Regions from separate parts of the Homo sapiens genome. Here regions 1, 2 and 4 are each linked to region 3. The links come from fine-mapping of genetic effects on gene expression. A gene starts in region 3. Each other region holds a variant in brackets. All regions are shown on one strand. Distances are from middle to middle.

Region 1 (7,919 bases), 190 kb before region 3:
CCTCCCCTCTTTCTATCTCACCACTGTAACTTAGTGTAGGGACTCAGCACATGGGGCCAAGGGAGCAAATGAAGGCAATGAGATTGGGCCAAAGCCTGGGGCTTCCATCAAAGGTTCTCAGCTCCAGGCCTGGCTGTAACCCTCCCTTTCCAGTGTACTCATCTGTGAAAAAGAGTGGATTCAAACACTACCCGTCTGCCAGGTGCGCTGACAGGATTAAATGAGACAGTGCGCAGAAGAGGCAGTCTGTAAACTACCAGGGAAATCCAGCTAATTATAACAACAGCGCCTTTACTAGCAAATTCTGTAGAGGACATTTCACTAAGGACTGTCCTCCTGGCACCTCACTGAACACACACAGAGTCCCCAAGAAATCAGGAGACACATAACCTTTCTTCCCATTTTACAGATGTGGAAACTAAAGTTCAGAGGAGCTAAGGAGTCTGCCTGACACCAAGAGACAAATCCACAAATACAGGGCTGAAGTGTTGGTTTGCAAGCTGATGTCCTGTCCCCTCCTCCTTGTAAGGGGCTGGGGAGATGGGGTTGCAATAACCCAGCACGTTGGCTCCTGCAGAAAAAAGAACCTCTTTCCAAGGCAGCCAAACTGATTAATGTTTTTAATTAATGTTTTTAGCCACACACACAAAGCAATGTTCCATGGAAATTAAGGAAATTAAAATTTCTAAGCTTCTCCCAGGAGCTGCAAAGAATCCTGGGCAGGCCAGGGTGTTTAGAGCCCGGTGCAAAGCAGAAGGTCATAGCCCCACCTCAAAACACTGAACCTGCTCAGCAGGGGGTCACTTCCCACCCACAGAGTGACAGGCCACAAGGAGAGAACTTGCTCAGAAATATGCCAATGCCAATAATTGGTGGGAGAAACAGGGAGTGAAGAGGAAGGTCTGATGGGAGGTGCTAGATCCTGGGACTGAAGGGTCAGGTGGCTGCCCCCAGACCCTCTGGCTATCCTCCCACCTGACACAGTTCTCAAGGATATCTACCTGCTGTGTGGTTGACTGAGGTCCCTGCACCTGATGTGGCCGAGCAAGCCATGGGCTTTCTAAGGACACTGACAACACTTCCCTGATGTCTCCTGGGACCGCAGAAGGTCATGCTGGGCCCAACGCTGTGCTTTGACGTCTGAAGAGCCTGAGTGCCAAGGACAGGCTGACTCAGGACCTCCAAGGCTCCCAGGAGGTTCGGGGCAGAGGTGTGCTCTGTGTTAACATCTGTTCTCCTCTCTGCCAGCAGAATATCAAGCATGCCACAGTTTCACATCATCCATTCCTCTCTACAGGCCGAGAGGCAGGGCCGTATTGTCTTCCTTCTCCAATCAGAAGGTGAATTGCACAAGGGCTAGGTAACCTGAACAAGGGGAGGCAGTCCTACATGTAAGGCAGGTCTCTGTTGGAAAGATGGAGAGACCCAGGGTATAACACACATTGACTAATCACCATCTCTGCTACCAGTTCTTGGATGCCACCAGAACGTGGCCCAGGCAGTGGGGCCAACTGGGTGGGCAGATGGCAGCCAGGAGCAGCCACCAAGGGCTAGGGTAGGAGCCCTTGGCCACTTGGCAGGAGACAGTGAACAAGCTTCGAAATCAGCAACAGCACTTGGGTTCATGATGTGGAAATCATCAAAACACCATCGCCCACTGCAAATAGATCATGGAGGTAGACTATGGTACCTGCAAGAGCTGTAGATGGCAGAGAGTGGAGCAGTTTCCCCTGGGAAGCTCCTGAGTGCAAGCTCCAGCTTTGGGATATGTTCCTTCCCTCTGGAGAAGGCCCCAGAAAAGGACACAGAAACAGACACTGCTTCTCACAGGGAGTCAGCAGAGCCTGGCCCCCACGCTTGCTAGATTCTATCAAATCCAGCAAGCCGAGCATGGGGTGCAGGGCAGGGTGGGAAGTGCATAGTCTGCCCAGCTCTGAGCTGATCCCCACCAGTTAGTTGCTGTGTCAACATGGGAAGTCAGCCTAGCTTCTCTGGTCTTCATCTGTAAATCGAGGATTAAAAAAAAAAAAAAAGCAGCTACTCAGCCGGGCACAGTGGCTCACACCTGTAATCCCAGCTCTTTGGGAGGCTTAGGCAGGAAGATCGTTTGAGGCCAGAAGATTGAAACCAGCCTGGAAGGCTGGGCGCGGTGGCTCACGCCTGTAATCCCAACACTTTGGGAGGCCGAGAGGGGAGGATCATGAGGTCAGGAGTTCAAAACCAGCCTGGCCAAGATGGTGAAACCCTGTCTCTGCTAAAACTACAAAAATTAGCCAGGGGCAGTGGCAGGCACCTGTAATCCCAGCTACTCGGGGAGTTGAGGCAGGAGAATCACTTGAAGCTAGGCAGCAGAGGTTACAGTGAGCCGAGATCACGCCACTACACTCCAGCCTCGGCGACAGAGTGAGAATCTGTCAAAAAAAAAAAGAAGGAAAGGAAGGAAGGAAGGAAGGAAGGAAGGAAGGAAGGAAGGAAAGAGAAAGAAAGAAAGGAAGGAAGGAGGGAGGAAGGAAGGAAGGAAGGGGAAAGAAAGAAAGAAAGAGAAAGAGAAAGAAAGAAAGAAAGAAAGAAAGAAAGAAAGAAAGAAAGAAAGAAAGAAAGAAAGAAAGAAAGAAAGAAAGAAAGAAAGAAAAGAAAAGAAAGAAACCAGCCTGGCCAACATGGCGAGACCCCTGTCTCCACTAAAAATACAAAAATTAGCTGGGCATGGTGGCGTATGCCTGTAATCCCAACTGCTTGGGTGGCTGAGGCAGGAGAATTGTTTGAACCTGGGAGGCAGAGGTTGCAGTGAGCTGAGATTGTACCACAGCACTCCAGCCTGGGCGACAGAGCAAAACTCTGTCTCAAAACAACAACAACATAAAACAGCTGCTCCTGGACTGGGGTGGGATGGATGGGAGTATTGTACTGCAGTGTCTGCAGAGTGCTCAACACAACCTCTGGCTCAGAGTGGGTGCTTGATAAACACTTTGTTATTCTCAGGGTCTAATTGTTGTCCTTATTCCTGTTGCCTGGTAGGCAAATTAGGTTTCAGGACAGATAGTCTGGATTTGAATCCTAGCTCTGCCACTTGCTGGGAATGTGACTATTGACAAACCACTCTACTTCCCGATGGCTCCGTTTTCTTATCTACAGAGACGCGGACGTGATCAGCAGCCATAGGGGACCATTGAGGATTACAGAATTAAAGCAAGTGGTGCAGTATGAGCTTTCAAAAATAACAGTCTCAACCCAAACTGAGGAGTGTTTCTATAAAACAACTTACCTGGACTCTTCAAAAATGTCAGAGTCGTCCGGGTGCGGTGACTCTCGCCTGTAATCCCAGCACGTTGAAAGGCCAAAGTGAGTGGATCACTTGAGGTCAGGAGTTCGAGACCAACCTGGCCAACATGGTGAAACCCCGTCTCTACTAAAAATACAAAACTTAGCCAGGCTTTGTGGCACACGCCTGTAATACCAGCTACTCGGGAGGCTGAGGCAGGAGGATCACTTGAACCCGGGAGGTGGGGGTTGCAGTGACCTGGGATCATGCCACTGTACTTCAGCCTGGACCACAGAGTGAGACTCTATATCAAAAAAAAAAAAAAAAAAAATCAAAGTCAAGTATGACTGGGGAACATGAGACACAGCCACTAAATGCAATAATGATCCATAATTGGGAAAAAATAGTCAAAAGGGACATTATTGGGACTACTGATCAAATTGTGTGTGGCCTGAGGATTGGATAATACAATTGCAGCAATGCTAAATTTCCTGAGTTTGATAATTATACAGTCGTTATGTAAAAGAATGTCGTTATCCTTGGGGAGCACACACTGAATATTTAGGGATGAAAGGGCATGTCTACAACTTACTCAAATGGATCAGGAAAAAATAGCGTATTTGGTGGTGGGGTGGAGTGTGAGTTAACAACTGATGATCTGGGTGTGCAGTAGTTCTTCATATGTTCATAATTTTTTTCTGCAAGTTTTAAATTATATTAAAATAAATAAGGACCACAAGCTACAGAACAAGAGGGCGAGAATCACCCTGAAGAGCCTGGAGTATTAACCATCCATGCAAGCAAGAAATCAAAGCCTTTCTCAAAAAAACCTATGTCACCTTAATCACAGATGTTAGGATTTATTACGTAGAAAACTACAAAGGGTAAGGCTGAAATTTCATTTGAACCACCACCTCCGTCCAAGAAGAAGAAAGAAAAATGGATGGCTACTACTGTTCCTACAGCCCATGGCCAGGCTGGCAGGGCCATCAGGAAATAATTAGGCCACATCCGAGCCATCCAGCAGCCTGGCACATAGGTGAGCTGGGATTTGACCCCAGGCTGCCTCAACAGGAGGCCAGAGGGAGGCAGGTACTCCAAGTCAAGCAGCAGCCAGCCCCAAGATCAGCCCTTCCTCTGAAGCCGAGGCCCCACGCACTGTAAGGCCGAGCCCTTAATACGGCTGCAAACTTCAGGGGAGCCCAGACCCGTGTCTCCCTGCCCTGTGTACTCCCATCACACTGCCCCCACCACTGTGCACAACAGGTGCTCAACACTCGTCTGTAGATGTACTCATGGACACACATCTTCTTTTCAATAATGCACAGACTCTTTCAGGAAGAAGGAGCAAGAAACCTGCAACAACTGTGTCCCAGGGAGGAGAAACAGGGGTCTGGGGACATGAGGGTTGGCAGTCTTCATTGGAAAACTTTGTATACCTTTTGGATTTTGTGTCTTGTAAATGCTTTACTGATTCAAAAAGTTTTGTTTTGTTTTTCTTAATTCTTTTAATTGATTCATTTATTTTATTAATTAATTAATTAATTAATTAATTA[T/ATTAT]TTTTGTAGAGGCAGAGTCTCACTGTGTTGCCCAGGCTGGTCTGGAACTCTTGAGCTCAAGCCATCCTCCCTCCCCTGCCTCCCAAAGTGCTGAGATCACAGGCATGAGCCACTGAACCCAGCCATTTTGTTTTTTTAATATAAAAGGAAAAAAAGAAATTGACAAAGTTACCTGTGAGGCTGCCATGAGTGCGAAGTCATGAGTAATCCCATGCTACTTAATGCTGAGTCCCCGGCACACAGCTGTTGCTCACTATGCTACACATCCTCTTGTTTTCAGAGGGTGAAGAGACTAGAATGATTAAAGACTCAGAGTCAGCAGCATCACTGATTTTACTGGAGAGTGTTTAGATTTGATCACCAAAAGTCCAGTCCTTATGTTTCTGAAACTCTAGAGCTGCTGTTAAAACAAGGTAGGAAAGCCAGCCTCAAGTAATCCTAACATCGTTATCCAACTCCAATAGGTGCCAGGAACTGTGAAGATGTTTTCATCCCTACAACAACCCAAGAAGGTGGGTAGGTGCTCACATTATCCCCATCTTACATTTCAAGAAACCACGTCACAGAATGGTCACAAAAGGCGCCCAAGACCTCTGCAGAGGGAGAAGCCTGGTAGGTGAAGGAAGGAAGTCTAGCGCCAGAGACTGGGCTTCTAAAGTCTATAGTCTTGAAGGGAATGTGAGGACCACCACTGTCCCAGGAAAAAAGGATTTTGACTCAGAGAACCCTGGGTTCCAAGCCAAGCTCCCTCCAAAAGCCGCAGGTGTGGTCAGACAGCCTTTGGTGGCACCACCTCCTGGGAGGACTGAAGAAGATAATATGTGAGGAAATGCTTTGGAAACTGTAAAGTGCCATGCAAATCTCACCGTAGAAACAGAGGATGCAGTGGGGGTGTGGGAAGAAAGGAGGCATCTGGAAGTTCAACCTTACCAGGACGTTTTCCCTGAGCCATTAGAAGTATTTCCACTCCTAGTCTTCTACCTCAAACTTTCCTTTTTGTACTACACTTACATTCAACTTTCCCTCAAAAACATCCTCCCACTTCAGAGGTGTTAAGTTATTAAGTCAGCCCTAAATGTAAATAGTTTTCATTTCTCTAACCCCAAAAACCTCCCTTCCCGCCAGCATGCTTTGGTCTTGTCACCCAGAACATCAAAGCCATTGTTTTCCGTAAAAGCGTTCTGATCACTTGGGTGACTTGTGCAGATAAACACCACCCACCACATGCCAGGCTGTGCAGCACCTTCCTGGTGCCCTGTCAGGAGGTGAACGCGCCAGGAAAAAATGCCGAACTCTACTGGCAAATGCTTTGCACATGGTCACATGCCCTGCACCTCTCTCCAAGCTCTTTGGGTAGCCTTGGCCAGTCCCTTCCCCACAAGGGCCCTCTTGCAGAGGAAAGAGGTTGGACCAAGCAATCTCTAGTTCTCCTTGAGATCTAAAATTCACTGATTCCATCTCATCCTCCCTGCTAGGAACTTCCTGAAATATAATAGTTCATTTACAAACACACACACACACAGAAGCTAAGTAACTGGGTATAAGCTGGGCTCTAAGCCTGGGCGCGGTAGCTCACGTCTATAATCCCAGCACTTTGAGAGGACAAGGCAGTGGATCTCTTGAGGTCTGAAGTTCAAGACCAGCCTGGCCAACATGGTGAAACCCCATCTCTACTAAAAATACAAAAATTAGCTGGGTGTTGTGGTGGATGCCCGTAATCCCACCTACTCAAGAGGCTGAGGCAAGGAATCACTTGAACCCAGGGGGTGAAAATTGCAGTGAACCAAGATTGCACCACTGCACTATATCCTGGGCAACAGAGCGAGACTCTGTCTCAAACAAAAAAAAAAAAAAAAAAAAGAAGCTGTAGTTTTTGGTGACTCACAGAGGAGAAAATATATTTTTCCACTTAGCTCAAAAGAATGGTTCCTCCATTCTTCAATTACTCAACTGATGTAATGATGTAAAGTCACCAAGCCAATGGGGCACCTGGGGAAGTTCCAGGCTCCTGGGAGTTCAAACGTCAATGAAGGTAAGTGAAGCAGGGAATTTCCTATGGTGGACAGGTGCGCCCAGAGGTGGGCTGCAACAGAGAGCCCCCTCCCTGAGAAAACATCCCATATCCATTCAAGTCTCCAGCTCAATAAGCCACCTTCTAGGGAACCCAGGAAACACTGAGCCCAACGCTGGCCCAGAGCCCATCGTCCAGGAAGTCACGCCCCCAGTATGCAGGTTGCCTCTTCCAGGAAGTCAGTGTTGAGCCACCGCTCAGCCCAAACCCCCTAGACTATAACCTCCGTAAGGGTAGTAATCGTGACTGACATGTCATAGGAACATAATAGATATACATATTTGCTAAATGAATTACTCACAGTGCTTCCGTAAAGCTTAGGTAATTCCATTCCCCCCAATACTGTGTGCTTTTATGTACTAGATACTGGGGATAAAATGGTAAGCAAAGCAGATATTTGGCCAGGCACAGTGGTTCACACCTATAATCCCAGCGCTTCAGGAGGTCGAGGCAGGAAGATCGCTTAATGCCAGGAGCTCAAGACCAGCCTGGGGAGCACAGTGAGACCCCATCTCTACAAAAATATTTTAAAAATTAGCCGGATGCTGTGGTATGGACCTGTAGGTCTAACTACTTGGGAGGCTGAGGTGGAAGGATCGCCTGAGCCCAGGAGATCAAGGCTGTAGTGGGCTATGATCATGCCAATACACTCCAACCTGGGTGACAGAGCAAGACCCTTTCACTGAAAACAAACCACCACCACAACAAAAAAACAAAGCAGATGTTTCTCCATCCAGGCTTCTTCTAAAGCAGTTACTAAAGTGCTGGCAGATGACCATCAGCTATCAGCCCTCTCTGGGAACTGCCTTGGCCGAATACAATCACCTTGTTCAAGATTAGGCATCCTTTGGGTGGTGGGGTCGGGGGCACATGAAATGACTGATCAACCCTCACCTCAATTCAGGACAATTCTGAAGGATCAGTCTAGCTCCCAGGCTCCTCTGGCATTGGCCTTTGTTGGGACATTGTTACAGCTCCACTTCTCCCTCTGCCCAACTATGGTTTCTTCTCCTTCAGTTTCACAGCTGTT
Region 2 (7,919 bases), 210 kb before region 3:
ATTTCCTCCTTGTTAAATTCAGGTTATAGTTCTGTCAAGGATAGCACAGCAGCAATGGCTGATTCCAGGGCTGGACCAGGCAAAGTGTACACTGAGCCTAGAATATCTTGTGGGGTCAAAAGGTAAGGCAGTGCTCAAAAAACAACAGTAAAATGGCAAAAATACATAGAACCCAACTTGAAGGGCATCCCAATGTAAAATCTAGAAAAATCTGAGCACAAAATGTATTATAGTCATGGGTTATAACCAATATAATGAGAATCCAAGAGTCCAGACTGATTTTTAAAAAATTGCATTTTTTCAATATAAAAGAAAATATCTTCCTTATAGTAACATTTTAATTGACAAATGTAGGAGTAATGATGGAAGTAGAAAATCACTGTTTGGCACACACTGTAGTAATAACTGTTTCAGACAAGAATTATCCACGAATGCTAAAATTAGTTTGGTGAAAGTGTGATGAGAAACAAGATACTTACATAGGTCCAAAGCATCTCCTGACAAGATACTTATTCATTACACAGAAAAAAAAATAGAAACTTTACAGTAGAGAAATCTGGCAGACATCACCTTAATCAAGTGATGGAAGTAAACATCATTAGTAATGTGACAAGCCAACACCAGGTGCCTCCTGATCTGAGGCACTGAGAAGGACACAGCATCTCATTCTTTATAGTGGCAACTGAGCATTGTACTGTTGACCAGCTAGGCTGTCTTCAAGGTTCTGATACATTACTAATGCTGTTGAATAAATATCTTTTGAAACTTCCCTCACTATTTCTAGGGTACAGACTCCGAGAAGTGGGATTGCTGGGCCAAAGGGTGCATATACTCTAAACTTGGAGAAGTCCTGCCCAAATTTCCCTTATCTTTTTATTATTATTATTATTATTATTATTATTATTATTATTATTATTATTTGAGACAAGGTCTCACTCTGTCACTGAGGCTGGAGTGCAGTGGCGCAATCTCAGCTCACTGCAACCTCTGCCTCCCAGGTTCAAGTGATTCTCCTTATTCAGCCCCCTGAGTAGCTGGGACTACAGGCGCGCACTACCACATCTGGCTAATTTTTGTATTTTTGGTAGAGATGGGGTTTCACCTTGTTGGCTGCTTGGCCTCGAACTCCTGACCTCAAGTAATCTGCCTGCCTTGGCCTCCCAAAGTGCTGGCATTGCGGGTGTGAGCCACCACACCTGGCCTTGAAACGTCTTTTAGAGCTGTTGGTCCTGTTCATCACCCTCCACCTTTCAGCAGCAGTGTGTGAGAGTACCCACTTTCTTTGCTAGCACTCAGCACTACAAGCCACCAGAATGCTGAAAGCTGGGGCAAAGGAAGCCATATGTGGCTGTGTCAGCAGCTGGGCAGATGCAGGGAGTACAGCAGGAGCCAGACAAACCGAGAGTACTGGATGCATCCGGATGCAGAGGGATGTTCTGAGGTTTAACTAAGTCAGGGCTCCAGGACACACTGCAGTCAGCAGAAGGTACATGTACAAAAGATAGCAGGGGAAAGACGACAAGACTAGGGCATATCTGTTGGATGCTATTTGAGAGGTTTGCTATTTAGAAATGACCTAAGAGCTTAAACTTGCACCAAGCCCCACCTGGCCCAGTCTCCATCCTTCAGTCACAGCTCCTTAAAAGTCTAAGACAGGGGTGTCCAATCTTTTGGCTTCCCTGGGCCACATTGGAAGAAGAAGAATTGTCTTGGGCCACACATAAAATACACTAACACTAACGATAGCTGATGAGCTTCAAAAACAAATAACAAAAAAATCTCACAAGCTTGGTCTAAGACAATACAAATGTAGTAGTGAGGTTTCCCAGTCAAACTTATTAGTGATAGTTGCCAACCTTTGTGTTGTAACTTTTTTTTTTTTTGAGATGGAGTTTTGTTCTTGTTGCCCAGGCTGGAGTGCAATGGTGTGATCTCCGCTCACTGCAACCTCCACCTCCCAGGTTCAAGCGATTCTCCTGCCTCAGCCTCCCGAGTAGCTGGGATTACAGTCATGTGCCACCATGCCTGGCTAATTTTGTATTTTTAGTAGAGACGGGGTTTCTCCATGTTAGTCAGGTTGGTCTTGAACTCCCAACCTCAAGTGATCTGCCCTCCTCCACCTCCCAAAGTGCTGGGATTACAGGCGTGAGCCACTGTGCCCAGCCTGTGTTGTATTTTATAATCAATTTCATGTCACTTTATGTGGACTTCGCAACAACATAGAGAAAGGCATTGTTACATTTACAGGTAACAAAGACTGGAAAATCAGAGAGGGAAAGTAACTTGTTCAGGGCTGCACAGCTGCAAAGTGAGGCAGGTAATTGGTATTCGAAAGGCTACTTCAGTGGTATCTGGAGACTAGTCTATCTCCTGGCCCAGGCTTCTCCCTGTAGCAGGACCACTGTTGTCCTAACGCCACAAATACATTATCTCATTTCATCTCTACAGCCATCTGATGAGATGGGTACTACTGTTAGCTCCATTTTACAAATAGGAAAACGGAGATTGTGCCCCGGGCTTTGCTACCAGTAATGGGTGGGCTCAGGACTCTCTCGGCAGAGAGGGAAGTGAGGGGACAAGGCAGACCCAGCTCAACCCCACCTCCAGGATGAGCAAATGTAGAGAAAGGTGAAGAAGTGCTGGCACCTGAATAAAGCCCTCCCTTCTCCCCCACCCAATAAACCCAGTAAATCCATAGTTCTTGATTACCTACTGTATACAAACTGGCTGGATTACAAGGACCTGCTTTACAGACTAATGTTCATTATAATTCACAAGAGTCAAGGGGATCTTATTGTACAATGAAATACAGTAGTTGCGGCCTGCTGTGGACTGAAAGGTGCCAGCATCCATTCTGCATTCATATGTTGAAGTCCCAACCCCTAAGGTGACTTTATTGGAGATAGAAACCTTATGGAGGTTGGTAAGGTTAAACGAGGTCCTAAGGGTGAAGTCCTAATCTGAAAGGATATGTGTCCTTATAAGAAGAAACACCAGAGAACCCTCTCTGCTCCTACAACCATGTAAGGACACAGAAGAAGGCAACCATCTGCAAGCCAAGAGGAGAGCCCCCACCAGAAACTGAATCAGTTCACACCTTGACCTTGGACTTCCCAGCCTCTAGCACAGTAAGAAAATAAACTAAGCCCTTTATTCTATGATATTTTGTTATAGCAGCCCAAATAGACAAAGACAGAGACGCTTCATAAATCAGACTGGTGGCCTGATTAATTTGTCTTTTGACTATGCCCTCATCAGTCATGTTGGAGAATAGTCCCCCAAATCTATATAAGAACTCACTTATAATTTACACATATGCATATGAATGCCTATATTATTATTATAATAACAGGGATGAAAACAAAGACATTTTATAAAAAAGAAATCAACAGGCCAGGCGCAATGGCGCACACCCGTAATCCCAGTACTTTGGGAGGCAGAGGCAAGCAGATATCTTCAAGACCAGCCTGGGCAACATGATGAAATCCTGTCTCTACAAAAAATACAAAAACTAGTCAGGCATGGGAACACATACCTGTAGTCCCAGGTACTTGGGAGGCTGAGGAGAGAGGATCATTTCAGCCTGGGATGTCTAGGCTACAGTGGGCCATGATCCTTCCACTGTACTCCAGCCTGGACAACAAAGAGAAGAAGAAAAAGGAGAAGGAGAAGGAGGAGAAGGGAGGGCAGGGGAGCAGAGGAGACAGAAGGGGAGGGGAGGGTAAGAGAGGAGAGGAGAAGAGAGGAAGGAAGGAGGGAAAGAAGGAAGGAAGGAAAGAAGGAAGGAAGGAAGAAAGGGAGGGAGGGAGGGAGGCAGGATTGTCTAACACAGTGAAATCCTGTCTCTACTAAAAAAAAAAAA[G/AG]GTGTGGTGGTAGGTGCCTGTAGTCCCAGCTACTCGGGAGGCTTAGGCAGGAGAATTACTTGAACCTGCCTGGGAGATGGAGGTTGCAGCAAGCCGAGATTGCACCACTGCACTCCAGCCTGGGCAAAGAGCAGGACTCCGTCAAAAAAAGAAAGAAAAAAGAAGGGAGGAAGGAAGGAAGGAAGGAAGGAAGAGGGAGGGAGGGAGGGAGGCAGAGAGGGAGGGAGACAGGGAGGGAGGAAGGAAAAAGAAAGAAGAGAAAAAAAGAAAAGAAAAGGAAAAAAAAGAAGAGAAAGGAAGTTGTAACATTTTCTCCTTATACTCTGTTGTGGGTTTAACTGTGTCCCCAGAAGTGTTATGTTGAAGTCCTAACTCCCAGAACCTGTGAATGTGCCTTATTTGGAAATTGGGTCTTTGCAGATGTAATCAAGTTATGATGAGGTCATGCTGGTTTAGAGAAGATGCAATTCTAAGAAAAGGGAAATTTGGACACAAACACACAGGAGAGGACACAGGAGGATGGAGGCAGAGACTTGGATGATGCAATGACAAGCCAAAGAGCGCCAAGGATGGCCAGCCTCCAGCAGAGGCCGGGAGAGAGAAAGGGAGGATTTTTCTGGGCATCTGCAGGGAGAACACAGCCCTCACAACTCTTTGATTTCAGACTTCTGGCTTCCACAACTATGAGAGAATACATTTCTGTTGTTTTGGGCAACCTAGTTTGTGGTACTTTGTTATAGCAGCTCTAGGAAACTAATACACACCCTGACCAATCTGCACATCCTACTGAATAAGAAAGAGTAACATGTAAAGCAATGGGAGGAAAATGTCACACAGGTGCAGAGGCCAGATTGGAGAGTAGTGGCTCATCACAATGATCATGCCCATGGATCCCTGGGAACCGAGGTGGGCCCCTGGCCATGGGGAATCACCCAGGGCGGATGTGAGACTCAGGCGCCTGTTGGGGATTATCCAGGTCTTTCACTCATTTATGCATTCAGCAATCAGCAAGGATTCCTGAGGAATACTGTCAATTAATCACTCAAGTTTCACCCTCAGAAACATAACGTTCTGGCATCAGAGGGACAGAAAGATTGTTGACGTGCCTGGTCAGGAAGGTGAATTCGGTCGAGCAGGATTGTGCTGGGGAGCTGCTACAGTCTGAATGTCGGTGTCTCCCCAAAGTTCATAGTTGAAATCCTAACCCTCAAGGTGATGGGATTTGGAGGTAGGGGCTTTGGGAGGCGATCCAGTCACGAGTGTTGAGTCCTCATGAATGGGATTAGTGCCTTGACAAAAGAGGCTCCAGAAAGCTTTCTCGCCCCTTCCTCCATGTGAGGACGCGGTAAGAAGACACTGAACCAAGAAGCAGGTTCTCACCAGACACCAAATCTCCCAGCGCATTGATCTTGGACTTTTAGCTTTGAGAACTATGAGAAATAAATTTTTGTTGTTTGTAAACCACCCAGTTTATGGGATTTTGTTACAGCAGCCCACATGGATGAACATGGGAGCAAAGGGGAAATCATGGAAGGAGGACTGTTTTCGTTCCATAGGCAAACCTTTCCCACTCTGTGAGTGGCTCAAGGTCAACAAGGGAAAACAGATTCCTGATCTGGTGGGGGCCAATGGCGAGTCTGAAAGGGTCACAGGAAGTGTGTCAGCCTCTGCCTTCTGGGACCCTTGGGCAGCTGGGCACCGGTACAGAGGAAACCCCCCAAGAAGCACTCAGCCCACATTTCCCCCCAGCTAGCCTCACTTCCCCCCTCAGCACTGCCCTGGTTTATTTTGACAAGGTTGTTTCCACCCTGCATGGTCACACACCCTTGCAGACACTAGGGAGTCCTGCCCACTCTGGGAACCATTGTTCACTGTGGAAAACCCGAAGCGTCACCTTTATGCACAGCAGGCTGGGAAACAGTGCTGCTGGCGAGCCCCTCAGGAGCAGTCATGGTTGTGGGCAAGCAGCCAAACGGGGTGCAGACAGCACGCAGGGCTTCCTGGCACAGACCTGCAGGTGGGCGGTAGGCGGTGGGGTGGGGGGCAGTGGCAATGCCCTGGGCCTCCAAGTGATGAGCTTGGAAACCTGCTTCAAGTTGAACTGAGCAAAGGATGCAAAGGTAGGAAATACAGAAATACACCTCACAAGAGAAGAGGAAACATACCAAATGTTTTAACGGGTAGAATTTCAGATAAAAAACAAATCCTGTATTGAACATGGAAAAGGCACAAGGGGGACAATGAGGTCTGGGAGAAGCAGCAGCTGCATGAAGCAAGTACACCCCTTTGGTGATGGGATCTGCTGGTGGAATGATCAGAACTGAGAAGCCTGGAGGACCTTGCAGAGCTCCAGGCTGGGCTGTCATCTCTGATAGTAGCACAACGCAGCTGGTTCCAAGTATGGAATAAACAACAACAACAAAAGCCCTACACACTAAAATCAACTATTGTTATGGGACAAAGTCCTGCTGCCAGGAAAGTATTGCTACGGTGACACTGTCAGGCACAGGAGGCAAATGGGAAGGGGCAAGGCCCTCCGCCCTTCCCACCTGCCAGTTTTCCTTTGAACAACCAGGTCTGGCCATTCTGGGCCTGCAGACTTTCAGGGCCATAATCAGCAGCCACAGACTGGCCATTTCCCCCTTTATACTGGGCCTACACAAGGACCATAGTCAAAACATTTCTCAACAACTGATTTGCTATGCAACCATGGAGGTGCCTGACCATTCAGAGCAGGTGCTGGCCTGATCTCCTGGTTCCTTGCTACCTCTGGTGCTTCCAGTTCTGCACCAAGCCCTCCTGACTGCCCAGGAGGCCCACATCACTTATTTTTGTTGCCTGCCTGGCCTCTGCAGACAATTGAGTTTGGGACGCCTGGCTGAGAAGGAAGCCAGGTGGGGGATACTACATGATACGTCAACTGTTTCATCCTCATTCTGTGTGCCTCGGGTCCCAGGAAAGCAGGGACATCCCTGATGGGGCTAACCAAGGGGTTCTAGGAGCAGTGTGCAGGGGAAGAGGTTGTATGGAGTGGGAGTGGCATGGGAGGGAAAGGAAAGCAGGAAAGGCTGTCAGTAGGAGGACAGGAGCAGAACAGGACAGTCCAGAAACCAGCAAGGGCACATGAAGCCCAGGGAGAGACACATTCAAAGGCCTGTGAGCATAACACAGAGTCCCGGTTTGCAAACATCTAGGCAGGACACATTTCGGAGTCTCTTTCTACATGCATCTGACTCATCTTGATTTTTGTTGAATGAGGCCACATTGACCATAGGGAAAAGTCCAATGTTCTCAGCCCACTCCTCTTGCCCCACGTGAACTTTCCAACATCTCTGTTCATTACCTTCTTTTGTCAGTCAATGTGGGCAAAAAGAAAACAAGTTTGTTAAAAGTGGATGGGGGCCGGGCGTGGTGACTCACGCCTGTAACCCCAGCACTTCGGGAGGCTGAAGTGGGTGGATCACCTGAGGTCAGGAGGTCGAGACCAGCCTGGCCAACATGGTGAAACCCCGTTTCTACTAAAAATACAAAAATTAGCCAGGTGTGGTGGTGTGCACCTGTAATCCCAGCTACTCGGGAGGCTGACGCAGGAGGATCGCTTGAACCTGGGAGAGCGAGGTTGCAGTGAGACGAGATCACACCACTGCACTCCAGCTTGGGCGAAAGTGTGAGAATCCATTTCAAAAAAAAAAAAAATGGGTGAAATGTGGTAATGAATTAGAGTTGGAGACAGCAGTATAAACTCATAGTTAGCTTAACATAGATAAGATGGATACCTGGAGAAATATTTACACATACGTGCATGCACATGGATTCATATACACACATTTATTTATTTATGTATTTATTTATTTTTAAAAATTTTTACAGGGAAAAGTGTAAATGCAGTCCCCCATTACCACAAATTATGCAGTCAAGTCTCCCACATTTGGGGGAATCACAGGGGTCAGCACATCGGGAGTGCAATGGATAAGCCTCACCCTGGGGAAACCACCTTTGTGATCATGGTATCTCCCCTGCCAGGTAAGTATTCATATGTGTTAAAAAAATTGTTCTC
Region 3 (7,919 bases):
GGCAATCTCAGCTCACTGCAAACTCCGTCTCCCGGGTTCAAGAGATCTTCCTACCTCAGCCTCCCGAGTAGCTAGGACTACAGGCGTGTGCCACCACGCCGGGCTAATTTTTTTTTTTTTTTTTTTTTTGTATTTTTAGTAGAGACAGGGTTTCACCATGCTGGCCAGGCTGGTCTTGAACTCCTGACCTCAGGTAATCTACCGGCCTCAGCCTCCCAAAGTGCTGGGATTACGGGTGTGAGCTACTGCACCCAGCCAAGACTAAGGGTTCTGACCTCTACCCATGACTCCTGCCCACACCCACAGCCCAAACTTTCCAGCATGGCAGCCCTCACCTAAGGCCTCTTGGCCCCTTTGTCTCTGACTGCTCCGTGGCTGCAGAAAAGGTCGGCAGGCAGAGCATGAGGTATCTTCATGCAAGATGTTCAGCTTTCTGTTTGTGCCTAAGGTGCACGGTGAGGGTGGGGGACACACTGTGTTCTCCTGCTCAAGGCCAAGGGGTATACCCTTTTCTTGTTGTTTTTTTTTTGAGACTGAGTTTTGCTCTTGTTGCCCAGGCTGGAATACAATGGTGCGATCTCGGCTCCCGGCAACCTCCGCCTCCCGGGTTCAAGCAATTCTCCTGCCTCAGACTCCCAAGTAGCTGGAATTACAAGTGTGCGCCACCATGCCCGGCTAATTTTTTGTATTTGTAGTAGAGACCGGGTTTCACCATGTTGGCCAGGCTGGTCTCGAACTCCTGACCTCAGGTGATCCACCTGCCTCAGCCTCCCAAAGTGCTGGGATTACAGGTGTGAGCCACCGCGCCCGGCCCTTTGCTTGTTCTTAACCTCATTATCCTCTAACTTCTGAGAGTCACACTAAGAAGTCGAAGACTGTGGTCCAAATCTCTACAGCTCTGCCTCTCCCAAGCTGTGTGACCTGGGAGGATATTTTTAACCTCTCTGGGCTGTGGGTTCCTCATCTGCAAAACCACAACAATAATCATCCTATTTTATAGGAAAGTTAAATGAGATCATATAATTTGAAGTGTTAGAACCAACCCTGCCCCACAACAAGAAGTCTACCATTGCTAGACATTTCATTATAAATGCCTCATGGAGTTGTAGGGAGTAGAAGGTGAAGAACATGCTTTGCGTGATAAACAATGTCCATGTTATACATGCACTATTATTGTTCTTATTATTAATTGTTATTTATTACCGTTATTAGTTCCTTAGATTATTTGAGGTCAGAAAACAGAAGAGACAAAGGGGGCTCCTGCCAAAGGACCCATTTTGGCAGCATTCCAAAAGGCCTTGAATTTCTGAGACTCTCTAGGGATGATATTGAAGTGACTGTCCACAGGACTCAATGGTCCAAATGATTCCAGATTGTTGCTCTGTTCCCATCCTCAGTCAGGGTCCCACCATGGACACTGGGAATATAAATTGGGGTGGGGGGTGTGGTCCTGATCCCTCAAAGAGATCACAAACCTGCATCAGGAAACAATAAAAAGCAAAACAAGGCCGGGTACTGTGGCACCTGTAATCCCAGTACTTTGGGAGGCCGAGGAGGGCAGATCACCTGAGGTCAGATGTTCGAGACCAGCTTGACCAATCTGGAGAAACTCCGTCTCTACTAAAAATACAAAATTAGCCAGGCATGGTGGTCCATGCCTGTAATCCCAGCAACTTGGGAGGCCTCCCAGCATTTTGGGAGGCCAAGGCGGGCGGATCACCTGAGGCTGGGAGTTCAAGACCAGCCTGACCAATCTGGAGAAACTCCGTCTCTACTAAAAATACAAAATTAGCTGGGTGTGGTGATGCATGCCTGTAATCCTAGCTACTTGGGAGGCTGAGGCAGGAGAATCGCTTGAACCTGGGAGGCGGAAGTTGCAGTGAGCTGAAATCCAGCCATTTTACTCCAGCCTGGGCAACAAGAGTGAAACTCTGTCTCAAAAAAAAAAAAAAAAAAGCAAAACAAGAGAAAAAGAAGAATCTTATGTCTGCAGCCAACTATGAAAGGAAATGCAAAATAAAAAGGCCACACATCCAGAAGGGCCACCTGATATAAAACAAATAGCAAAGGGGCAGCCATCAGCAGGCCTGCCACTGCCTCTCCAGACGACCTGGACCGGCAACTATCCAAAGTCTTCCACTTCCCCCAGATATTCTGCCAATACTCTGCCCAAATGCAGGGCCACTCACACAAACAGGAGGAAAGAACAGGGTGTCTTATAGTCCAGGAGATCTCTTGACAAAGCTGCCAGAGAAACGTGTCCATCTTGGGCAGGCAGAAGGCCCAGGCATGGCAAACACAGGCTCCAGAATCCAGCCAGAGTGCCTGCCTACCGCTCAGGAGGCGGAAAAAAAAAACAACTAAAGAACAGGGAATTGATTTGATGTGGGCAGTGAGAATTCACCAGGTTTTCAGACCAGCAATCATATAAACTAGTGGGGATCAGATATGTCAGAACAGAGGGGAGAACTCCTCCTTTCCAGTGCAGAAAAGCTCCAGCCACAGAAACACAGCATGGAGGTGGCGAGGGGCGGGGGAAGGTGTTTAAGACAGAGGAAAAGGAAAGTTAATCAGAAAAAAAACAAAACAAAACAAAAACGGACTTCTATTTTTCAAGAGAAGCCGTTTATGCAAAAATTCTGCACTCAAGATAGATGAGGCAACAAGAATAAGCCACTCTTAACCAGGCAAAACAGCAACACAACCACTTAACAAATCCCTCTGGGAATTCAATGGGTACAGCATATACCCCACAGTCATACCCGTAAGTGGAATTCCAGTTGGGCCCTTGTGCCGAAGCTTTAGACCACGAGGCACGTCCTCACCTCCAAGATGTAACTCATCTCAAATAATGGAGACCAGGCCACGAGGTTTCTCCCAGACACGGATTCTGTATTTGTCCTTCTGCAGCTTCCGGGAAGGTTTTTCTCCTAATAAATCCTGTAGAAAGTTCCACTCAGGGTTCTGAGGATTGATACAACCCCCTTCTTGACTGATCAGAGCTTTAGAAAGATTCGCTATGACCACAGGACTGTGTCAAGTTGAACAAGTCTCAACTTGTCGCTGCCAGTATGCAAAATAGGTCTGAAACATCTTATAACAGACAACACAGCAGACACAGTCCCTGCATCCTCAGGGCCCCCGCCCACCCACCACACACAAACACATTTCTCTAGAGTTTTTTTTTCCTAGCAAGGAACTAGCCCCAGTAGCCAGGATTCACAGTGGTGGAGTGGGCGAGAGACAGGCTAACAGCCTCTCTCTGGAAAACCTAATACCAGAAAGGAAACACCAAAACCTCATCCTCTTGTCCCTAAATCCTTGCACGTGATTTCTTCTCCTCTCTAATGTTCTAGAAGGGCCTAAAGTCAGGAGCTTAGATGAACAGAAGAATCTTCCATGCCTGCAAACCACCAGGAAAAGGCATGAGGCATCCACACACAGACGCATGCAGCTTCATGGCTGTGCTTCCTGAAAGTCTACACCCAGAACCACAAACACTGGCATAAATAAGAGCACGTTAGCAAGAGAAGGCAAACCTAATTAAATCAACAGCCCAGCCAAGAAGAATGACCATGATGAGGGTTTAGGAGCACCCAACAAACCCTCACATGCGATGCAAAAACTGAGAAAGTCTCAAAACACGGAGTTACTGAGTTTTTGGAAATCACCTTCGCCCAGCCCTGAGGGGGTGTGAGAGGAAGCGGGGAGTGATGGTCAAAGGATGGAGGGAGGATCACACATTCACAGACCTCTAGTTTCGCCAGAGGGGCCTCCAAACCACATCATGGCTCCAAATCTGTTCTGACTGCAGAGGGGTCTATTTTTAGAAATTAGTTAATATGCCTTTGATCAAGTTCATAAATCCAGAATTGCCTCTATGCACCGGCCATTCGGTGTCATCCCCCTCCCCTCACCCTCCCCAAACGCCCAAACTCGCCACCAGTCTTGAGGCTGGTGATGAGGACAGTGCACGCCTAGCACACACATATTGGATTCCGAAAGCCCCTTTCCTCCGTCCGACTACTCACAGCGCATCCCTACTCAGGGCCAAGTCTCGAGAGTTTCCAGAAACGCAGGGGACAAAATTGGAACTTACTGGAGGGCAGATCTGGCCGTGTCTCCACAGGTCACAGGGACCGCCAACATCCTTTCCGCAAGGAAATCCACTGGAAGGTGCCGGGGGTCCCGGGGCACATCTTTGCTCGCAGCTCGTCGTCGCCCCTCCTCGTCCCGGCCGCCCCGAGCCCGCCCGGCCCGCGGGCCCATGTGCTCGGCCGCCACACGCGCTCTGCCCGGAGGAGCGCGGGGCTGGCGGGTTGCCCGTGACGTCACGGCGGCTCGCGCTCGGGCCTCGGGGGAGGGGGGAGGCGCGCGCGGCCCGGCCCGCCGCGTGCGTCCTCGGTCCCGGCGCTCCCGGCCTTCCCCAGGTCCCCGCCCGCCGCCCGGTGCGCCCCTCAGCCTGCTTCCCGGCAGCGCAGGGCACTGAGCCGGAGAGGGCCGCGCGCGGAGGCGGGGCGGGCTTGGGCGACTGCGGCCGCCAAGGGCCCAGACTGGGGGAGCGGAGGGTAGGCTCTGCCCTGGGCTGGGGGTCCTCGCTACAAGCGCGCCGGAGTCCCACCGGGCCGGAGGGAATCCCCGGTGATGCCAGCTCGCTTGTGCGCCGAGCTTTCCACGGTCTTTCCCTGAGCCCTCTTACCCTTCCCCACACCGTCCTGGAAGCAAGCGGTCTTCCCACTTTCCTGCTGAGGAAGGCGAGTTCAGTGAAATAGGAGGGCCAGAGATGCTCCGGGATAGGTGCAGTTCCCGCAGAAGACCGCCGACTGAGCTCCAGCTCCAGTGATCTGAGCGCCTCTTTGGGTACCACCCAGCATCCGCCGGCCTGGTGAGAAGGGCGCGCGCACCTTCTCGCCTCCTTCGACGTCTCCCGCTGTTTCCAGAAGCCGAGTTGCAAACCCGTGCAGAGGGCCAGCGGTCTGCGCAGCTCCCTCCACTCCGGGCAGAGTTGACCTACAGAGTGTGTTCAACGAGTCCCTTAAATGCCCAGTAGTTCCTCCAAAGGAGCAAGTGGACACTGGCCTCCCATGTGGGATGTGGTTATCTTGTTCTATCTGCATAAACCCGAGACTGGACAGATGTAAGAGCTGCCCCTGTTCAGTTCAAAGTTTATTTTATTTATTTATTTATTTATTTATTTATTTATTTATTTAGAGATGAAGTTTCACTCTGTCACCCAGGCTGGAGTGCAGTGGCCCGATCATGGCTCACTGCAACCTCCGCCTGCCTGGTTCAAGCGATTCTCCTGCCTCAGCCTCCGGAGTAGCTGGGATCACAGGCGCGCGCCACCACGCCCAGCTAATTTTTGTAATTTTAGCAGAGACAAGGTTTCACCATGTTGGCCAGGCTGGTCTCGAACTCCGAACCTGAGATGATCCACTCGCTTCGGCCTCCCAAATTGCTGGGATTACAGGCGTGAGCCACCACGCCAGCGCCCGTCCAGTTCAACGTCTACTGAGCACTTAAGGGGAGTCAGGCACCCAGCTAGGCAATGGGGTGGGGGTTACTCATGGACCCTAGAAGGACGTCACAAACCAGCAAAAATTGGACACACAAATGGGTGGTATCAATATTACGGAACAGAAGGTTGCCCCTCTTCTCCCCTGCCGGCTACCCTACATCCTACTCACTCCAACCTACCCGGAGGCTCCTCCCTCTTTCTGTGTAGTGTTTCATCACATCTCTTCCCGTGGCGGCTTCTCAACGCAAATGTTCTTATTTGAAAAAGAAAAAACAATTACTCAGTTGATGCTCCTGTTCTGCCTGTTTCACAGATTCATTTACACTCATGGGCATCTCTTTTGTGCCTGGCTCCTTGCCAGGAGCTGGACAAGTCTCCGCTTTGTGCCTGGCTCTCTGTGAGGGGCTGGACAGGTGTCTGTTTTGTGCCTGGCTCTCTGTGAGGGGCTAGACAGGTGTCTGTTTTGTGCCCGGCTCTGAGAGGGACTGGGCAGGTGCCTGAGCTGCAGTTGGCATCTAGTTGTCATCCATCTTTTAAAATATAAAAAGAAGATGATGAGAAACCTCTGCATCTATACATCATGCGATAGGAGCTGTGAGACCTTAATCCTTTCACTGCTTAATCATTTTTTCCAGAAACCAAAGGCTGTGACCTTGAGGAAGCCAGTGTCCTCCTGGGGGATGCTGGTGGGCTATGAGAGGACCAGCTTCTAATGGCAGACGTCTCTGTCCATGTCCTGACAGTTGATGCCCAGTCCCTTCTGCATGGAAAATCTCCCCTGGCTGAAAAGACACTTTCACCCAGGACTCACTCAACTTTGACCTTGATGCTGTTTGCCCTCTCTGGGTCTCCAGCTCTCATGCACTAATCTTAGATTCACATTTTCCTTTTTATTAATTTCTTTTTTAGAATTAAAACATTTTTTCAGTAAAAATACAAAGAAAAAATAATATTTTAATATTCCTACCATCCAAAATAAACATTTTGGTATATCTGCTTTTGTTTTGTTTTGTTTGTTTGTTTGTTTGTTTGTTTGTTTGTTTTTAAATGGAGTCTTGCTGTGTTACCGGGCTTGAATGCAGCAGCTCAATCTCGGCTCACTGCAACCTCCACCTCCTGGGTTTAAGCGATTCCCCTGCCTCAGCCTCCCATGTAGCTGGGACTACAGGCGTGCGCCACCATGCCCTGCTAATTTTTTGTATTTTAATAGAGACGGGGTTTCACCATGTTGGCCAGGATGGTCTCGATCTCCTAACCTCGTGATCCACCCGCTTCAGCTTCCCAAAGTGCTGGGATTACAGGCGTGAGCCACCGTGCCCAGGCCTGCTTTCATTTTTTAAAAGTCACTTTTCTTCTTGCAAAAGTGATATTATATATATATATACACACACACACATACATACACGTTGTAAAACATTAAAACTCTGCAGAAAAAAAAATAGAGAAGAAAAACAAATTTTATCAGCCAGAAATAATTTTTCTGAATATCAGATGAGGCCTTTTTGGGCACAGATGGATACATATAGGCATAGATCTTGATATAGATATATAGATGGATGCAGGATTGACAAATAGATAGGAAAAATATTTTACAATGTTAATGTCTCATAGTTGCAATTTTTAAGAAATCTAATTTTTTTAGTAGAAGAAAAGGAAGCTAACATAAAACTAAAGGAATTGTTGTGTTTTAAATATTTATTTACCACATGAGAAGCATTGCTTTCTAAATAAGGCTACAAAGGTTCAGAAAAGATAATGAAAAGCAAGGAAAGAGTGGCATGATGATGTTTTACTTGTAGGCCTCATCATTGTAAAGTCCAGGCAACTTTTTGCTATTACATTCACACATTTTCTCACATCTCCCTTTACCTCACCTGTATTTGTTCGTTGTTTTCTGTTTTTGTTTTTGTTTTTGTTTTTGTTTTGAGACAGGATCTCACTCTGTCATCCAGACTGAAGAGCAGTGGTGCAAACTCGACTCACTGCAGCCTCCACCTCTCAGGCTCAAGCAGTCCTCCCACCTCAGCCTCCTGAGTAGGTATGTGCCACCATGCCTGGCTTACTCCCGGGCTCAAGTGATTCACCCGCCTCGGCCTCCCAAAGTGTTGAGATTACAGGCATGAGCCACTGCGCTAGCCTAGTTGTGCTATTGTCTTTCGATTACCACTTCCATTCTGTAAATGCAGTTCTCATGGTTGTTTAGTATTGGTTCTATAATTAAATAATTTTAGGCTCAGTACCAGTCTTTACCTTCTCTATATCTGCATCCTCTTTTTTTTTTTTTTTTTTTTGAGATGGAGTCTAGCTCTGTCACCCAGGCACGATCTGGGCTCACTGCAATCTCCGCCTCCTGGCTTCAAGCGATTCTCTTGCCTCAGCCTCCTGAGTGGGGATTACAGGC
Region 4 (7,919 bases), 300 kb before region 3:
ATGTGGGGAAGTTTCAGTGTTAAATCTGGTGGCCAGGGAAGGCCTCATGGAAATGATGATACCCGAGCAAAGACTGAGAAGGGATGAGGAAGTGGACAAATAGGCTAGAGAGGACACAGCAGGTGCAGAGAACCTGAGGCAGAAGTATGCCTGGAGGGTCTGAGTTATGACAAAGGGGCCAGGATGCCAGGGCGAAATGAGATGGAAAGGACGAGGACGTGATCAGAGACATCACAGGGCTGCATCCCACGGGCCTCGCAGGCCACAGTGAGGCCTGTGGCTTTTACTCAGAATTAGGTGGAACCCTTTGAGGGTTTTGAAGCAAATGGGCTTATGAGCTCTGGCTGCCCTTTCAAAGGATCACCCTGGCTGCTGTTTTGAAGACAGACTGAGAGGCAAAGGCACAAGCTGGGAGCCCAGCCCAGGGGCTGTTACAAAAATTCCAGGCAGGAATGAGGGTGGCTTCGACCAAGAAGTGAGAGGAGGTCATAGTCTGGATACATTTGACAGATGGACTGGATAGATAGCATAACTGCCCAAGAGATTCTTCCTGCCCACTGCATCCATGCACCATGGTCAGCAGTGTCCCGCCGGTAGAGATGGTGCCAGAGTCAGCCCCCATCTCTCTGCCAGGAGAACTAGGCAGCCGTTTGAGCTGGCCTCCAGGCCTGTTGCCAGTGGGGGGCTACCGAATCATACACAGGTAGCCACCAGCACAATCCCACATGAGACCCCAAATTTGTTACTGCCCAAGGGGTTATTCCTGCCCACTGCATAAAGAAAGACCACGGCATTGTAGTAGAAAAAGAATTTAATAGACACGAGGCCGGCCACGCCACGTGGGCGATGAAGTTCGTACTCATCTTATTCAAAGCTCATAGGTTAGGGATTTTTCAAAGGCAGTTTGGGGGAAGGGGTGGGGGTGGACAGGTAACAGGTGCTTGCTGCTGAGTGGTTGGGGCAGAGATGAAATCGTAATGGGTTGAAGCTGTCCTCCTGTTGGGCTGAATTGCTTCTGGGTGGAGCCATAAGGTCCAGGTGGAGTCATGGGTGTCAGACATGCAAAAAACCTGGAAAGATATTTCAAAAGGCCAATCTGTAATAGTAGTGTTATTCACAGGAGCAATTGGGAAAGTTGCATATCTTATAACCTTCGGAATAATGTCTGCAGCTTAGTAGGATTCAGGCTCTTCTCCTCCCCGCACCCTGATGGCCCCCTAACAGCTTTACAAAAGTGGCTGAGTTTTGGGCAAGGCCTATTATCATTTAAACTGTAGCCTAAATGTCTTCCAAAGTTAGCTTGACCCAATAGCCCAGGAATAATTAAGAGAAAGGCAAGATGGAGGTTGGGTTGGCTTAGCTTACTGTTATAATTTTCTCATTGACACACCTTTTGCAAAGGTGGTTTCAACAGGATGGATGAGAGAGGGGATGACCAACTGAAGTTCCTCATCTAAACCATAGCCTTCCCCATCTCAAGGCCTTTGTCAGAACATCTTTCCCATCCTCCCTGCAGCAGGTTCCTTTAGGTCTGGGCTTGACTGTCACCTCCCCAGAGAGGGCTTTGCTGGACCGCAGCTCAAGTGTGCTCCCCCTGTAATTCTCATTCCCGTCCATGTGGATGTTGTACTTAAACACAAGTTAGTGGCCTGCTTAGGTTTTGGTCTATTGCCTTGATTTGAGTCTGTGCCCCACACTGGATGCATCGATCTCCAGGAGAGCAGAGACCTGGTTTCTCTTGTGCAGTGCTACATCCAAGAACCAAGCTCAGGGCCACTCAGAGGAGGTGCCCACATGATATTTAAATGAGTGCATATTTACATAAAGATATAAAATATCTAACAAGGCATTTGTTTCGGGAAGGAGGGAAGGAAGGGAGGGAGGAAAGAAGGAAGGAAGGAAGGAAGGAAGGGAGGGAGGGATGGAGGGAGGAAGGTTGGGAGGGAGGGAGGGAAGGAGAATTTATGGAATTTGCAGACTCAGCATTTAAACCCAGGTTTGCTTACCCAAATCTCACTCACTTTCTACTTCCCTCCTCCACCCCATACAGCCATCAATCAATGAACAAACCCACCCTGCGGCTGGCTGGGGAACCTGAGGGCTTAAGACACTTATAACGTAACTGAAGATGCTAAACTAAGATGCACATAACACAACAGTGACCATGATAAAAAAAAAAATTCATTAGCAAAGTTTGTTGTAGAAGACTATTGAATTATAAGGCAAGATGTTTATGATACAGTTTTAAAAGAACGTTCTAGAAAACAGCATGTAAAATATAATCTCCTTCCTAAAAATATATATATGTACATAGAAACTGTACTGGAAGATTTTACATCAAAATGTGAGCTGGGTATATTTGACTGGGGTGATTACTGGTATTAATTTGGCTATTTTGTTTATTTAAATTTTCTATCATGATTTGGTATCACTCTCGGAGCAATATAAAAGTAATTAAAATTATATTTCTGCATACATATAAGTCTATAATAAGCTGCAAGGTCAGTAGTGATTCCCATAGAAGGGGCAGGCCAGTGGTCAGGCAAGGCTTCCAGAAGGAGGGAAGGCGTGGACCGAGGTGGAGCACGCAGGCGAGAGGACATTTCCTGCTGCCGTTTTCCCACAGTGATGCTGGGTGGTGGCCCCAGGCTCCTCTGGGGTGTTCTGCCTCTTCAGGCCTCTGAGGGAGAAATGCAACTTGTCGGCTGGGCCCCTGAGAGGACCCTCCCGCCTGGCTTTGACCTAGAGGTCTCTTGGCCTCCACTGCCTTCATTCCAAAGCACTCCTGAAAGCATCCTTCCTCGGAAGACCCAGGAGAAGCTCACAATTCCATATCGGCTAGGGATGTGTGATCACGTGACCCGCATGTCGCCATATGCAATGACGTGGAGAACAGGAGTCAGAGTGAGAAGGCCTGGGTGGGAGGCCCACTCTCCACTGCTTAGCTAGGCGACCCCTGGTGAGTCACTTCATCTCGGAGTATTAATTGTCTGTAAAATGGGGTAATGAACCTGTAGTAATGAACATGTAGTAAGGGCAAAGGAAGATAACTTTCGTGAAATTAATGGGAAAAGTCCAGAAAAGCTGCTTTCTAGACAGTAACTCACTCACAAATGTTAGCAAGCAATGATCCCATGGAAATTCAGTGCAGGACTCACTCTTGCTGGTAACAGAGAAGGAGGGCACAAAAGTCCCTGTCCACAGGGGCCAGGATCCCTGGGGGTCCCGAGGCCTGGGCAGAAGGCACTAGGGTGCACTAACAGGAATTTAGGTGCTGCCAGCTTGCTCAGCATGGAGGAAACCTCTGCAGAGGAGGGGTGGACTGATGAAGAGGAGCAGCAGAAGACAATTTCACACCGAGTGCTTACAAAGTGCCAGGAA[C/G]CATATTATCTCTAATATAAGACACGCTGCCAGGTAGTTATCATCTTCATCATTTTAAAAACAAGTAAAGTGAGGCACAGAATGTTATGTAACCTGTGCAAGGTCACACAACCAGAACATGGCCTCTCTACCTCCACTCTACATGTACTAATCTCCATCCCCAGGGCCGAGAGGCCGCAACCGGATGGTGAGGTTTAGTCTTAGCCCTGATGGTGGGGTGGGGAGGGGACAAGGGTGACTTGAAAAGCTCTCCGTTCCCCTTGGCAGCTGTCTTTCCATTCGCACCCCCTCCTGCACCCCTCTGCCAGGCCTGTTGATCACAGAGGCACCATCCCATCTGCTCCGCCTAGAAGTTCAGAATCTCCCGAGATTTCTGAAGCCTCCAGCACTGTTCTTTGTGACACTCTAAACACAGCAGCTTCTCCTCCTGGGGATGAGAGAGGGTCAGCCAGAGCCCTGGGCCTCTGTTCCCAACCCCTGAGCCCAGCCCTGTTCCCAAGGCTGCACACTACAATTCCAGCCCCAAGGACATGGTGGGGCGGGGGGAAGGCAGAGAGTAGAGGGGACACAGGAACTGCCCCTAGGAAGGGAGGCCCCGAGGTCCAGAGAGGGGAAGAACTTCAGGCCTGGCTCATGGAGATGTGTCCAGCCTCAGAGGGAGCAGGATCAAGCAGAGTTCCAGGTGCCGGGTAGGGCAGAAAAGGAGGGTGGTCCCAGAGCCTCGTCTAAGTCCCTGCAGGAAATCTCTGAGTAGGAGCTGGCTGGGGGCAGGCTGGGGTGCAAAATGCCTGTCCACTGGCTGTGGGGCAGGAGAGGGCAGAAATTAAGAGGGGAGTTCTTGTCTGAAGCTCATCCCTACGCTGAAGGCCCAGAGTGCAGCTAGGAAGTATGGACTCTGAAGCTGGACTGCCTGGGTTTGAACCCTGGCTCTGTTACTTAATAGATTCTCAGGTAAACGAGTTAAACCTCTCCATGCCTTAGTTTCTCCATGTTTACAAGGAATGATAATCACACCTGCCTCAGTGTTGATAAGAGAAAGGAAATGAGTCTGTGTGGTTGAAATTTTCACAGGGAGCCTGGGGTGTGGTCAGTACTGCCTAATCCTGCGACTGGCACACTTTTTCTGTAAAGGGCCAGAGGGTCAATATTTTAGGCTTTGCTAGCCAGATGGTCTCTGCTGAATATTCTTTTTGTATTCTTCAACCCTTTAGTGACATAAAAATTATTCTTAACTCAGAGTTCTTACAAGCACAGAACACTCACCAGATTTAGCCCAAAGGCTTAGTTTTTGTTTGTTTGTTTGTTTTGAGAAGTAGTCTCACTCTGTCGCCCAGGCTGGAGGTTCAGTGGCGCTATCTCAGCTCCCTGCAACCTCCACCTCCTAGGTTCAAGTGATTCTCCTGCCTCAGCCTTCCAAGCAGGTGGGATTACAGATGTGCGCTACCATGCCTGGATAATTTTTGTATTTTTAGTAGAGATGGGGTTTCGCCATGTTGGCCAGGCTGGTCTCGAACTTCTGACCTCAAGTGATCCACCCGCCTTGGCCTCCCAAAGTTCTGGGATTACAGGTGTGAGCCACTGTACCCAGCAAAGGCTACAGTTTAAGGACCCCTGATCTAGACTAAAGGTAACCCTAGAGTTGTAGGTGTGGTTAGGGGCAGGCATTTGGCTGGTTTCAGTTGGAAGCAGTTTCTAGGCCAGCCTGGGGAGGCAGAGGAAACATGGCAAGACTGGGGGCCTGGGTGGGGTGGAGCACAGCCTGCTGTGAGCTCTCATGCTGAGCCCTGGGCCCATCTGCTGCCATCATTCCCATCGCAGTTTAAGAAGCACCTGAGGCTGGAGCCTCTGAGGACAATGACAATGGACTGTGTGCCATTCAGAAGGGATGACCCACCATACATCCTCTAATAAACATTTACAAGTTGTTTACTATATGCTAAGCACTGGCCTAAGCCATGAACAAGGCAAAGGGGCCTGGGCTCGACCCCTGGAGGTCTCAGCTGGCAGGTCGCACCTTTGACAGCCCCAAGCTGGGTCTTCATCCTGAGTCTCAAGATGCAGTAGCCTCAGTGAACTCCTCAGCCTCCAAGCGTTCCTGGGGTGATCCTCTTGGTGGGGCTTGTGAATCTGGGAGCCCGTTATTCTGTCCTTCTGGAGAGAAAGAGAAAAAAAAAAAGATCCGCTGACTATAAAATGGTAGCAGGACAGTGGCCCACTCGCATTGCTCAGCTGGTACAGGGGACAGGGCCCCCTTCAAATGAGGACGTCAGAGCATTTGACACATGTTCACTCATTCCAGAAAGCTCTCCTTCACCATTCTAGATACCAAGGCCTCGAGAGGCTCCTAACTGTGGGCCCTGCCCATCAAAGAGAGTGACAACATATAGTGAACATTGCCATTTTACAGATTGAAAAACTGAGTTTGAATAAAGCTAACTAAGGTGTCTAAGATCATGCCATTCACCATGATGGAAAAGTAAATCAGAATCTTATGTATCCTGTGCCCCACAAACACAGTGGACTCCTTCCTGAACCCCATCAGCATTCTATTCTATAATATTACAAAGCACAGTTGTACCTGGTTGGTTATCTTTTTTTATTTTGACTCATGTCCTCTGTGCTCTGAGCCTACTTGTTGCAGGACCCATGGTTAATCCCTAATGAATATACCAGCAATTGACAGGTGGGTTGAGTTTCTTTTTACAAAGAAATGAAAGTAACACCATCTTACATATGAGATCTGGAGGGCACAGAGAAGCCAGCTCTGACCATGCCGAAAGAGCATGGCAGAATTGGAGTGGAAAAGAAAAGTCTCCATAAGTATCTTAGAAAGGGCATCGAGAATGCGTACCTCAAGCTGGTTCCTTGTTTTCAACTTGCGGCTGACCGCAACGCTAACAAACAAGGGAAAATGAAATCCGTGATCATCCTCAGACAGGGTTACCCTGACATTCAGAGCAGAAACCACAAAGTTTTGCTGTAAAGAGCCAGACAATATATATTTTAGGCTCGGCAGGGCACAGGTCTGTCTCACGATTCCACTCCCCCACTATAGCAGGAAAGCAGTCACAGACAATATGTAAAGAAATGGGCATAGCTGTGTTCCAATAAAACTTTATTTACAAAAACAGGCTGTGGGCCATAGTGTGCCAATTCCTGGTTGAGTACAGACAATGGCAATGTGACCACTTAATGAGATTCTATCGTGTGCCAGGAACTCTACATCTTTTAATCACCTTTCTAAGGCAGGTATTTGCCGAGTGCTCACCCGCAGCCAGGCACTGTTCTAGAAGCTGGGCTTCAGTGCAGAAAAAGACAAAACCCTGCTCCCTCAAGCTTACGTGGTGGAGAACCCTGCCAACACCCCACCCTCACCCCAAGAAAAAGCATCACCCCCACTTTTCAGAAAAAGCAAAAGGTACGAATCCTAGAACTTGTGAGGGGCACAGCTGGGATTCCAGCCCAGATTCCAAATCTCGGTTCTTTTCAGGATGCCATACCATCTCTCAAAGCAGAATCAGGACCCTCAATTTCAGCCCAGAGGCTGCATCTTATCTTAAGCCAAGCCAAACTGCAGCTGCAATCTCCTATGCAACAGCAGCCCAAGTTTTAAAACGCCCAAAGCAAGAAAAGATGCAGTGGACGCTGTCCAGCCTCTGATAAACCTAATAGAAGTTGCTCTCCGGGGCTGGTCATGCAGGGCTGGCCCCATCCACATCTGGAACCACGAGACGCAAAAGACGCAATGGATTTAAACTCTGCCTGTCCACCAACAGTCCCATAGACTGAGAGGTCTGGGGAGGCTCTGGAGCAGGAAGGTGGAGATGACAAACACAGCTCTGCTGTTTTGAGGCCTGGTATGGGCATGGTACTGGTTCAGATTCTCCCTGTCATCCTTTTTCTATGGTTTTCATGGCTTGGACCCTGAAATAAAAGAGCCCTCTGTGAAAGGGAATGAAGACAGGGAGGAATAGAGAGTAGAAGGAAAAACTTTTCTTGAGTGCCCACTTGATATCAAGCACTTTAACATTTTACCCACACACGATGGGTAGGTATTCATCATTGCTCCTGTTTCACAGACCAAGGATCAGCACAAAATTTTTTTGTAATGGGCCAAGTAGTAAATATTTTGGTTTTCTGGGCCATCCCATCTCTGTTGAAACTACTCAACTGTGCCATCATTGAGTGAAAGCTCTGCACACACCAACTATAGCTTATGTAGACAATACATAAATGAACAAGCATAGTTGTGTGCCAATAAAACTTTATTTACAAGTGCTAATGATAGAATTTCCTATAATTTTCATGCTATAAAATTACATTTCTTGTGATTTTTTTATTTAAACATCTAAAAATGTAAATGTTTATATTTGCATTTAATTTACATTTACATTTAAAAATGTAACATTTTCTATGTAAAAATCATTTAAAAAGTAGCAAAAATCCTTAATGTGCAAGCTGTACAAAAACAGGCTGTGGACTGGATTTAACTTGCGGATCATAGTTTGCTGACCCCTGTTTTAGAAGAATTCACAGCT

Alleles and levels. Alleles are on the strand shown, and positions count from the first base shown. SD is a standard deviation of normalised expression in the study named. Not every link is listed here.
For the expression in Th1 cells of the gene that starts at base 4,310 in region 3, allele ATTAT in region 1 goes with a higher level than allele T (large effect, 0.77 SD a copy in Schmiedel 2018).
As copies of AG replace G in region 2, the expression in skin of the gene that starts at base 4,310 in region 3 goes up (small effect, 0.38 SD a copy in TwinsUK).

What was found. PIP is the estimated chance that this variant, and not a neighbour inherited with it, causes the effect.
Region 1: its variant is the best candidate, but not a certain one, in a credible set for the expression of PVT1 in Th1 cells (Schmiedel 2018, PIP 0.55).
Region 2: its variant is the best candidate, but not a certain one, in a credible set for the expression of PVT1 in skin (TwinsUK, PIP 0.79).
Region 4: its variant is the best candidate, but not a certain one, in a credible set for the expression of PVT1 in whole blood (TOPMed, PIP 0.88).

What each region holds. Positions count from the first base shown.
Region 1 is chr8:127,979,551-127,987,469 of GRCh38, reverse strand. All of the region lies in intron 3 of PVT1 (Pvt1 oncogene), which reads right to left. Among named protein-coding and RNA genes, the nearest start is that of MIR1205, 23 kb to the right of the region's middle. RefSeq lists an enhancer at 6,935-6,984. The variant T/ATTAT (reference allele first, on the strand shown) is at 4,819.
Region 2 is chr8:127,999,105-128,007,023 of GRCh38, reverse strand. All of the region lies in intron 4 of PVT1 (Pvt1 oncogene), which reads right to left. It also overlaps the pseudogene RNVU1-32. Among named protein-coding and RNA genes, the nearest start is that of MIR1206, 5.8 kb to the left of the region's middle. RefSeq lists enhancers at 5,128-5,709, 5,788-5,927. The variant G/AG (reference allele first, on the strand shown) is at 3,863.
Region 3 is chr8:127,790,915-127,798,833 of GRCh38, reverse strand. It overlaps PVT1 (Pvt1 oncogene), which reads right to left and starts at 4,310. Exons shown (of 9, transcript NR_190187.1): 1 at 4,100-4,310. MIR1204 (microRNA 1204) reads right to left here and starts at 2,872; the gene lies at 2,806-2,872. RefSeq lists enhancers at 2,835-3,174, 3,275-3,324, 3,046-3,617, 3,618-4,187, 5,330-5,900 and silencers at 4,305-4,464, 4,475-4,534, 4,555-4,604.
Region 4 is chr8:128,094,131-128,102,049 of GRCh38, reverse strand. PVT1 (Pvt1 oncogene) reads right to left here. Exons shown (of 9, transcript NR_190187.1): 8 at 5,396-5,532; 9 at 794-1,070. Among named protein-coding and RNA genes, the nearest start is that of MIR1207, 49 kb to the right of the region's middle. RefSeq lists an enhancer at 5,984-6,233. The variant C/G (reference allele first, on the strand shown) is at 3,382.